2 separate regions of the Homo sapiens genome follow, and region 2 is linked to region 1. The links come from fine-mapping of genetic effects on gene expression. A gene starts in region 1. The other region holds a variant in brackets. All regions are shown on one strand. Distances are from middle to middle. Region 1 holds the start of CHP2 (calcineurin like EF-hand protein 2). Region 2 has its middle 25 kb from the start of CHP2.

What was found. PIP is the estimated chance that this variant, and not a neighbour inherited with it, causes the effect. A credible set is the group of variants that fine-mapping cannot tell apart.
Region 2: its variant is the best candidate, but not a certain one, in a credible set for the expression of CHP2 in lung (TOPMed, PIP 0.50).

The regions. Positions count from the first base shown.
Region 1 is chr16:23,752,139-23,757,368 of GRCh38, forward strand. CHP2 (calcineurin like EF-hand protein 2) reads left to right here and starts at 2,888. Exons shown (of 7, transcript NM_022097.4): 1 at 2,888-2,978; 2 at 3,523-3,595; 3 at 3,709-3,789; 4 at 3,925-4,055; 5 at 4,250-4,311; 6 at 5,063-5,185. The coding sequence starts at 2,912. RefSeq lists an enhancer at 2,776-3,421.
Region 2 is chr16:23,777,199-23,782,428 of GRCh38, forward strand. No RefSeq gene overlaps it. Among named protein-coding and RNA genes, the nearest start is that of CHP2, 25 kb to the left of the region's middle. The variant G/GATA (reference allele first, on the strand shown) is at 2,698.

The DNA.
Region 1 (5,230 bases):
TGATTTAAGTCTCACTTGTGTACATGAAACAGAAATGAGTTCTAGCATAGCCTGCTCTCTCTCTCTTTCTTTTTTTTTCTTTTTGAGATGGAGTCTTGCTCTGTTACCCAGGCTGGAGTGCAGTGGTGTGATCTTGGCTCACTGCCACACCTGCCTCCCAGGTTCAAGTGATTCTCCTGCCTCAGCCTCCCAAATAGTTGGGATTACAGGCGCCTGCCACCACACCCAGCTAATTTTTTGTATTTTTAGTAGAGACGGGGTTTCACTGTGTTAGCCAGGATAGTCTCAATCTCCTGACCTCATGGTCTGCCCGCCTCAGTCTCCCAAAGGGCTGGCATTATAGGTGTGAGCCACTGTGCCTGGTCCAGCCCTCTCTTAAAAGCTTGTGTATGATGTGTGCATGGGAGTTCCTAATTACTCTCCGGCCTAATTTACTTTGGTGTAGCACTGACTCCAATATTAAGGCTGGAGAAGCCCTTTCCAAGATCAGCATCCCAAGCTGGCCTGCGGTGCTTATCACAGCTTCTTAGGGCTCTCATCTCCTCCTGGGTTCAGAACTGAACCCAAACTACATGCACAGCCTGACTCACAGCTGTGGGTTGCAGTGATTGCTGGGCTTCATTAGGGAGGAGTGTGGTTTCCCGCATGCTTAGTCTTTGGGGGGAGTCTGAAAGAGAATCAAGCATTCCTTATGCCAGTTGCTTAATCCTTGGGGGTATCTGAAAGAAGCAAGCACTTCTTAGATCAATATTTTCAAGACTTATCTGATGCAGGCCTCTGCCTGGGGCTGGAGGATAGACTGTTTCTTCAGCTTCTCTCTCTCCAGGGTGGATATGAACTTGAGCCCTTGCAATGAACTGCTTGCATGTTTTCCCCCCTGGGAAATTTGTGTATGTATGTGCAATTATGATGGGGGAAACGGTTTAAAGATACTTTCAAAAGTGGACACTTCTAGTGTTTGTCCCTTGACAAATGAGTTTCTCGACCTGTTTTTTTTTCATTATCAACGCCTCCCCTAGTCTTTTTAATTTCCCCACCCTCACCCCTACCCCATGAAATTTTATTTTCTTTCTTTTTTTTTTTTTGAGACCAAGTTTCGATCTTTTTGCCCAAGATGGTGTGCAATGGCGCGATCTAGGCTCACCTCAATCTCCACCTCCCGGGTTCAAGCGATTCTCCTGCCTCAGCCTCCCGAGTAGCTGGAATTACAGGCATGCACCACCACGCCCAGCTAATTTTGTATTTTTAGTAGAGACTGGGTTTCTCCATGTTGGTCAGTCTGGTCTCAAACTCCTGACCTCAGGTGATCCGCCCGTCTCGACCTCCCAAAGTGCTGGGATTACAGGCATAAGCCACCGCGCCCGGCCTCTTTTCTTTTCAAGACAGGGTCTCACTCTGTCACCCAGGCTGGAGTGTAATGGCGTGATCATGGCTCCCTGCAGCCTCAACCTCCTGGGCTCAAGTGATCCTCCTGTCTCAGACTCCCAAGTAGCTGAGACTACAGGCATGTGCCACGACACCTGGTTAATTTTTTTTTTTTGTATTCTTTTGTAGAGATGGGGTCTCACTATGTTGCCTAGGCTGGTCTTGAGCTCCTGGGCTCAAGCAATCCTCCTGCCTCTACCTCCCAAAGTGCTGGGATTACAGGCATGAGCCTCCACGTCTGCCCTGAAATTTCAATATCACAGCTATACTGTATATCTATTTATGTGCTGTATGTATGCTGTGCTTTGTACATAAAAAATATGTTTTATTTTTTGCCCCGTTGGGGTGAGATAGAGACCGCACTGAGAATGCACGCTTTACATAATTAGTTCACAACTTGCCCCCGGCAGCCTCCACCACGTAAAATTAGAAGAAAGCAGCCCAGCAGGGCCTACAAGGAATGTGTGAACGGATGCACGTAAAGTGCTTAGCAAAGCGTGGTAAACAAGAGCCCTTGTTGTCATTCTTGCTTTAAGCCTAGTCCCAGTGATGTCTGTAACCCTCTCTTGGGCCAAGGAGTCCCATGGCTCTGGAGGGCTGTTCAGAGGACTAAGTCATTCCCAGTCTGGAGCTCTACGGGATCAGTAGGTACCTAAGGGAGTGAATTGGGCTTGGAGGGACTGTGGCCAGAAGACAGCTCTGGGCCTGGTGGTGATAGAACTTCTGATTTCTCAGGAAAAGCCAAGAATGTGGATTTTGGGTTAAATCTCCTGAATTTTAAGCATTGGCTCAATTAAACAACAATAAGGCAATGTGAACCGAACAAAAGGGATGAAACCAAGATTTACTGACTTTCCCAGAGTCACGGGCACGGCTGGGATTCCAACAAGGACTCCCAAACCAGTGCTCTTTCCACTTAACCTAACGCACACCCTTCATCTCGCCGCCCCTCCCCACTTCCCCGTCTTTGGGAGTTCTTCGATGCCTCTTCCCCCCTCCCCCCAGGATTCCCTCCCCATAGGCCACCCGCCTTCCAGCAGGGCGTGGTCTCTACAGAGGAGGTCAGGTCTCCCAGGCTTCCTCAGCGTCGACGCCGGGGAGCGCCCTGGGGTTGGGAGCGCCCGGGGCCCGCGAAGGAGGAGGTGGCTCAGGTGTCAGGGCGCACCGTGGGAACCGGCCCCGGGGGAGGCGTGGAAACGCGGGGCCTGGGACTCGACCAGCCTCTCCCGTGCGGATCGCAAAATCTCGGAGCTGAAACAGCCCGTTGTTCGCAGCCTCCCTCTGACCCGCCACCCTGCACATTGTTTTCCATTCGCCCGGGTCGCGGGTGGGAGGAGAGGCACGCCGGGGTTCTGGAGCTTGGCCGCGCGCCAGGCTTGTGGCCTTCGTCCCCCTGGGGCCACTGGGGCGGCCACGCCTCTCCGGCGGGAGGAGAGAACGCGTGGGTCCGGGTGGCTGCTCCGGCCCTTCCGCCTCCAGCTCGGCCATGGGGTCGCGCAGCTCCCACGCCGCGGTCATTCCCGACGGGGACAGTATTCGGCGAGAGACCGGCTGTGAGTGCGCCCGCGTCGGCGGCTGCGGAGGGGACGGGGCGAACCCAGGCGTCTGGGGCTAGGGAAGGGGTTGGGTTGAAGGATGGACGAACTTACAAGTCTGGGGTCCGGGGCTCCCCGGAGCTGGAAGACCAAGGCCCCTGTGCCTGGGATCGCTGGGTTAGGGGCGGGTTAACCTAGGGGTCCCAGCCTCCAAGTCTGGGGAGGATCCGGGTTCACGGGGTCGGAGTCCAGAGGAATCCAGGCACCCAGGTGTCCTCCAGCCCGGCTCGAAGCTGAAGGCAGAGCTGACGGCGGTTGGAAGGGATGGCTTTGGTTCTTTGGTTTTCGGGAGGTTGCGAGCCGCCCGGGTCTTGAACCTGGATCTTCGCGGGGTCGTGTCACTCTCCCTCCGCCCCGGCCAGCTCAACCCCTGATTCCCCGGGATGATCGCCCCTTCCAGCCAGCCCCCGCTGTTCTGGCCCATCTTCCTGGCCTGTTGGGGCGGGTTTCTGGAGCTGGCCCTGCAGAGTCACACACCCCCACCCCACTCTCCTTCCCGCAGTCTCCCAAGCCAGCCTGCTCCGCCTGCACCACCGGTTCCGGGCACTGGACAGGAATAAGAAGGGCTACCTGAGGTGAGGGGGAGCCGGCCTCATAACTTCTGGCCTCTGTCTCTCTGACTCCATGTCCCTCTTTGACCCTCCGTCTGGCATCTCTGCCTTACCCTCTTTGAAATTTGGCTTTGCAGCCGCATGGATCTCCAGCAGATAGGGGCGCTCGCCGTGAACCCCCTGGGAGACCGAATTATAGAAAGCTTCTTCCCCGATGGGTGAGGCTTGCTGGGCGTGGGGAGGTGAAGGCGGGAAAACCGGTGTGTGAGTGGGTGGGAGGGGAGGTTAGAGACGGAGGCAAAGTGATGGCCAAGGTGACCACCACCTCTTTCCATTCTGTCCCGTCTCCCCAGGAGCCAGCGAGTGGATTTCCCAGGCTTTGTCAGGGTCTTGGCTCATTTTCGCCCTGTAGAAGATGAGGACACAGAAACCCAAGACCCCAAGAAACCTGAACCTCTCAACAGCAGAAGGAACAAACTTCACTGTGAGTTTGTGAGGACCTGCACAAGTGAGAATGCAGATGTACCCACACCAGGGACAGGCTCCAGGGATCTCCCACTCCCTTCCTGAGGGCATTGACAACCTCCCCCCTCCTCCAAGGTGGGGGGAAGGAAGGTGGCTGCTGGAAGAGAGCCAGGGAAGACCTACCTTCCTTTCCCCCTCCCACCCTCTCCCCAGATGCATTTCAGCTCTATGACCTGGATCGCGATGGGAAGATCTCCAGGCATGAGATGCTGCAGGTTGGCAGAAAGCGAGAGCAAGAGATGTGATGTGTGAAGGATGGGATGGTTAAATGCAATGGTGTGAGAGATGGGGTGGGATGATTGGGGAACTGGGGCGCAGATAATTGGGGTATTGGTTGGGAAATGGGAATGGGTGCAGTTAGAGTGTGGGTTTGTTGGGAGTCGGAGTGGGGAGCAGTTGACTATGAGGTTGGGAATAGATCAGTGATTCTCAACTGGGGGTGATTTTGCTCCCTGAGTGAATATCTGGCAATATCTGGAGATGCTTTTTGTTGTCACAATGGGGGAGAGAGTGTGCTACTGGCATCTAGTGGGTAGAGGTCAGGAATGTGGCTATATATCATGCAATACCCAGGAGAGCCTCTTCCAACAAGGAGTTACCTGGCTCCAAATGTCAACAGTGCCAAGATTGAGAAACTCTGGAACAGATGTGATGGAATGAGGATGGAATTAGAAACCCTTAGTGGCTAAGGTGGAGAATGGTGTGGAGGATGGATGGAGGTTGGGTGATAAAGTTGGGTAATGAGTTTGAGCATATTTTGAGGGTAGTGCAGGATGGTGAGGGAGAGATAGGAGATTGGTTGTTGAAGCAGTAGGGAAAATTATTGGGGGATATGGTGAAAAATGGATGAAGGATGGATTATAAAATTAGCAATAACTTTTGGGATGAGGTGGGCAAGGTTTAGGAGATGGGGAGTTGCAGCCTTCGTGCCCCCTCCTTATGGCTGCCTCTTCACTCATCTCTCAGGTTCTCCGTCTGATGGTTGGGGTACAGGTGACAGAAGAGCAGCTGGAGAACATCGCTGACCGCACGGTGCAGGAGGCTGATGAAGATGGGGATGGGGCTGTGTCCTTCGTGGAGTTCACCAAGGTCAGAGTGCCCTTGGGGATTGGGGAGTTGAGATCAGGAGTTCTG
Region 2 (5,230 bases), 25 kb after region 1:
TTTTTATGTCTGCATAGTATTCCATGGTGTATATGTGCCACATTTTCTTAATCCAGTATATCATTGTTGGACATTTGGGTTGGTTCCAAGTCTTTGCTATTGTGAGTAGTGCTGCAATAAACATACATGTGCATGTGTCTTTATAGCAGCATGATTTATATTCCTTTGGGTATATACCCAGTAATGGGATGGCTGGGTCAAATGGTATTTCTAGTTCTAGATCCCTGAGGAATCGCCACACTGACTTCCACAATGTTTGAACTAGTTTACAGTCCCACCAACAGTGTAAAAGTGTTCCTATTTCTCCACATCCTCTCCAGCACCTGTTGTTTCCTGACTTTTTAATGATCACCATTCTAACTGGTGTGAGATGATATCTCATTGTGGTTTTGATTTGCATTTCTCTGATGGCCAGTCCTGATGAGCATTTCTTCATGTGTCTGTTGGCTGCATAAATGTCTTCTTTTGAGAAGTGTCTGTTCATCCTTCGCCCACTTTTTGATGGGGTTGTTTGTTTTTTTTCTTGTAAATTTGTTTGAGTTCTTTGTAGGTTCTGGATATTAGCTCTTTGTCAGATGAGTAGATTGAAAAAATTTTCTCCCATTCTGTAGGTTGCCTGTTCACTCTGATGGTAGTTTCTTTTGCCGTGCAGAAGCTCTTTAGTTTAATTAGATCCCATTTGTCAATTTTGGCTTTTGTTGCCATTGCTTTTGGTGTTTTAGACATGAAGTCCTTGCCCATGCCTATGTCCTGAATGATATTGCCTAGGTTTTCTTCTAGGGTTTTTATGGTTTTAGGTCTAACATGTCAGTCTTTAATCCATCTTGAATTAATTTTTGTATAAGGTGTAAGGAAGGGATCCAGTTTCAGCTTTCTACATATGGCTAGCCAGTTTTCCCAGCACCATTTGTTAAATAGGGAATCCTTTCCCCATTGCTTGTTTTTGTCAGGTTTGTCAAAGATCAGATAGTTGTAGATGTGTGGTATTATTTCTGAGGGCTCTGTTCTGTTCCATTGGTCTATATCTCTGTTTTGGTACCAGTACCATGCTGTTTTGGTTACTGTAGCCTTGTAGTATAGTTTGAAGTCAGGTAGCATGATGCCTCCAGCTTTGTTCTTTTGGCTTAGGATTGACTTGGCAATGCAGGCTCTTTTTTGGTTCCATATGAACTTTAAAGTAGTTTTTTCCAATTCTGTGAAGAAAGTCATTGGTAGCTTGATGGGGATGGCGTTGAATCTATAAATTACCTTGGGCAGTATGGCCATTTTCACAATATTGATTCTTCATATCCATGAGCATGGAATGTTCTTCCATTTTTTTGTGTCCTCTTTTATTTCATTGAGCAATGGTTTGTAGTTCTCCTTGAAGAGGTCCTTCACATCCCTTTTAAGTTGGATTCCTAGGTATTTTATTCTCTTTGAAGCAATTGTGAATGGGAGTTCACTCATGATTTGGCTCTCTGTTTGTCTGTTATTGGTGTATAAGAATGCTTGTGATTTTTGCACATTGATTTTATATCCTGAGACTTTGCTGAATTTGCTTATCAGCTTAAGGAGATTTCGGGCTGAGACGATGGGGTTTTCTAGATATACAATCATGTCATTTGCAAACAGGGACAATTTGACTTCCTCTTTTCCTAATTGAATGCCCTTTATTTCTTTCTCCTGCCCGATTGCCCTGGCCAGAACTTCCAAGACTATGTGGAATAGGAGTGGTGAGAGAGGGCATCCCTGTCTTGTGCCAGTTTTCAAAGGGAATGCTTCCAGTTTTTGCCCATTCAGTATGATATTGGCTGTGGGTTTGTCATTGGCTTCCCAACTTATTGCTTCAGTGTGAACAGACCTGCTGTACATTCTGGGCCACTTTTTACTCTCATCCTAGGGATTCCCTTTCCTTTTTCCTGCTTCCACTGCTTCCTGGACCCCCTGTTTTCCTCTTTATAGCTTTAATTTCTCATTTTGATAGAGCAGACTACCTAGTAACCTCCTAAGAAAGAGTGCATTGGTGGTCAGGTGTGGTGGCTCGCATTTGTAATTCCAGCACTTTGGGAGGCTGAGGTGGGTGGATCATTTGAGATCAGGAGTTCAAGACCAACCTGGCCAACATGGTGAAACCCCGTCTCTATTAAAAATACAAAAATTAGCTGGGCATGTTGGCAGGTGCCTGTAATCCCAGCTACACAGGAGGCTGAGGCAGGAGAATTGCTTGAACCTGGGAGGTAGAGGTTGCAGTGAGCTGAGATGATTGCTCCACTGCACTCCAGCCTGGGTGACAGAGCAAGACTCCATGAAAAAAAAAAAAAAAAAAAAAAAAAGAGTGCATTGGTGAAAAATATTTGAGAGCTTGCATGATTTATAATGTCTTTATTCTGCCATTACGCTTGATGGTAAGGTGTCAGGGTCTAGAATTTTAGGTTGAAAATAGCCTTTCTCTCAAAAAAAAAAAAGGAAAAGTATTGCTTCATTTTTCTTCTAGCTTCTTATGATGCTCTTGAAGAGTATTAGTTTTTGTATGTGCCTATTATGTTTCTTTCCCCCACTCCTGAAAACTTCTAGGTGCCATTATTGGTGGCAGTTAAGTGTGCAAACTCTAGAAGCAGACTACCTGGGTTCAAATCTCAGTTCCAACAATCATTGGTTATGTGACTCTGGGAAATTTGTTTAACTGCTCTGTGCCTCAGTTTCCCCATCTGTAAA[G/GATA]ATAACAGTACCTACCTCACAGAGTTGCTGTGAGGATCAAATGACCCCCTACCTTTCTGTGCTCCTCTGTATCCGTTGATGTAAACCTTCCTCAAGTTGGGTTGGTTCCACACACCATTTCTGGAGAGGGGTAGGGTCTAGAACAAGGCGGGCAAGCTTTACCTGTGAAAGAGCAGATAGTAGGCTGGCTGTGGAGGCTCATATTTGTAATCCCAGCATGTTGGGAGGCTGGGGTGGGTGGATCACCTCAGGTCAGGAGTTCGAGACCAGCCTGACCAACATGGTGAAGCCCTGTCTCTAAAAAAAAAAAAAAAAAAAAAAAAAAAAAACAAAATTAGCCAGGCATGGTAGCACATGCCTGTAATCCCAGCTACTTGAGGAGGCTGAGGCAGGAGAATCGCTTGAACCCGGGAGGCAGAGGTTGCAGTGAGCCGAGATCACGCCATTGCACTCCAGCCTGGGCAACAAGAACAAAACTCCATCTCAAAAAATAAAAAAAAAAGCAGATAGTAAATAGTTTTGACTTTGAGAGCTATAAAGCTAGTGTTTCAGCTATCGAACTTTACCATTGTAGGGCAAAAGCTGCCATAGACAAAATAAAAGTGAATGAACCTGGCTGTGTTCCAATAAAACTTTTGTTTATACAGCTGCAGGCAGATTTGGCTCGCTGACCGTAGGCATCTGACTGTGAAACACTATCCTCTCCTTTTTGTACTTATTTTATCCGACCCTTCTTAGAGGTATAGAGATGACTCCTAGTTGGAGACATCTCAGACTAAAAACTGACTACCTTATATTATAACTTCTACACAGTGCTCTAAGTGGTCCGATGATTGAGTTATATCAAATGCAGGGTTTCAGTTGCAACATTAATGAAATAGCCTGAGTAAACCTTTCGTGATGACAAGAGCCAGCCACCAATTATCTCATCCCTGGATTGACATTATTGTAAGCCACAAAGTACCAAGCTTTCCTTGTGCTTAAACTGTTGAGGAAAATGCTTGACTCTTTTTTTTTTTTTTTTTTGAGACAGAGTCTCCCTCTGTCACCTAGGCTGGAGTGCAGTGGCACGAACATGGCTCACTGAATCCTTGACCTCCTGGGTTCAGGTGAGCCTTTCACCTCAGCCTCCCAAGTAGGTGGAACTACAGGTGCAAGCCACCATACAGGCTAATTTAAAAAATTATTTCTAGATACGAGGTCTTACTATGTTGCCCAGGCTGGTTTTGAACTCCTGGGCTCAAGTGATCCTCCTGCCTCAGCCTCCCAAAGGGTGGGTTTGCAGGCATGAACCACCATGCCTGCCCAGCCAACTCTTTCTTTGTAACATTTTTATACAAATAAAAACAGCCATGCTATGGCACTTTTATCCATTAATTCTAGGTCAAGTGACATGCTGGGACTGGAAAGATGAAAATCACTGTGTCACCCTCAAAGGTTTGAGTAAGCAAGCAATTTAGATAGAACATCCCCTGTGTCACAATAAAGCCCTTTTCGCCAATCAGATTAGCAAAGACTAAAAAACAAACAAAAGACACAATCAATGCTTGTTAGGACATGATGAAAAGGGCACTTTGTAGATTTCTGATGTTAAATAAATTGCAACCCAGTCTGACTACATTAACTCTGTGCTGTTATGTTCATCCCAACTCTGTTTTCTTTGTCTTTTCTTTTTTTCTTTTTTTTGAGACAGGGTCTTCCTCTGCCATCCAGGCTGGAGTGCAGTGGCATAATCTTGGCTCACTGCAATCTCTGCCTCCTGGGCTCAAGCAATTCTCCTGCCTCACCCTCCTAAATAGCTGGGACTACAGGTGCACACCACCATGCCTGACTAATTTTTTAGTAGAGATGGGGTTTTGCCATGTTGTCCAGGCTGGTCTTGAACTCCTGAGCTCAGGTGAATCTGCCCGTCTTGGCCCTCCAAAGTGCAGGGATTACAGGCGTGAGCCACCATGCCTGGCCCCAACTCTGTTTTCTGCTCTGGCCCTCTGTGTCTTGCCTTGGGGGTATGGGTGGGTAGATGGGGGGGAGTTTCCTCTTTGTTCCCCACTGACTCTTTTTTTTTTTTTTTTTAAGGTTATCTATTTATTTAGAGATGGAGGTCTCAGTATGTTGCCCAGGCTGGTCTTGAACTTCCGGGCTCAAACAATCCTCCCACCTCAGCCTCCTGAGTAGCTAAGACCACTGGTGACCCAACTGATTCTTGGGGAAGGCAGCCCCAAGTGAGTTGACAACAAAAGTGCCTCCCTAGCCTGGGGCCAGTGAGACCCCAAATATCACCCCCCTCCCTTCGCTGGGTTTTTCCTGCCCATCTTTACCTGACCATTGGTCACTGGAGGAGCCTCTTAAACCTTCTAACCGGGAACTGCTCCTGCTATTGTATTTTCACCCACCTACACAATTACTGGACCACAGCATCTCCTACCACGCTCTCACTTCTCACATTGTCAGTACATCCATCCCCAGTCCTTGCCTGCCAAATTCCCCCATCTGTCATCAACACCCCCCCGCCATAGATTTTCTTTCCCCTTCC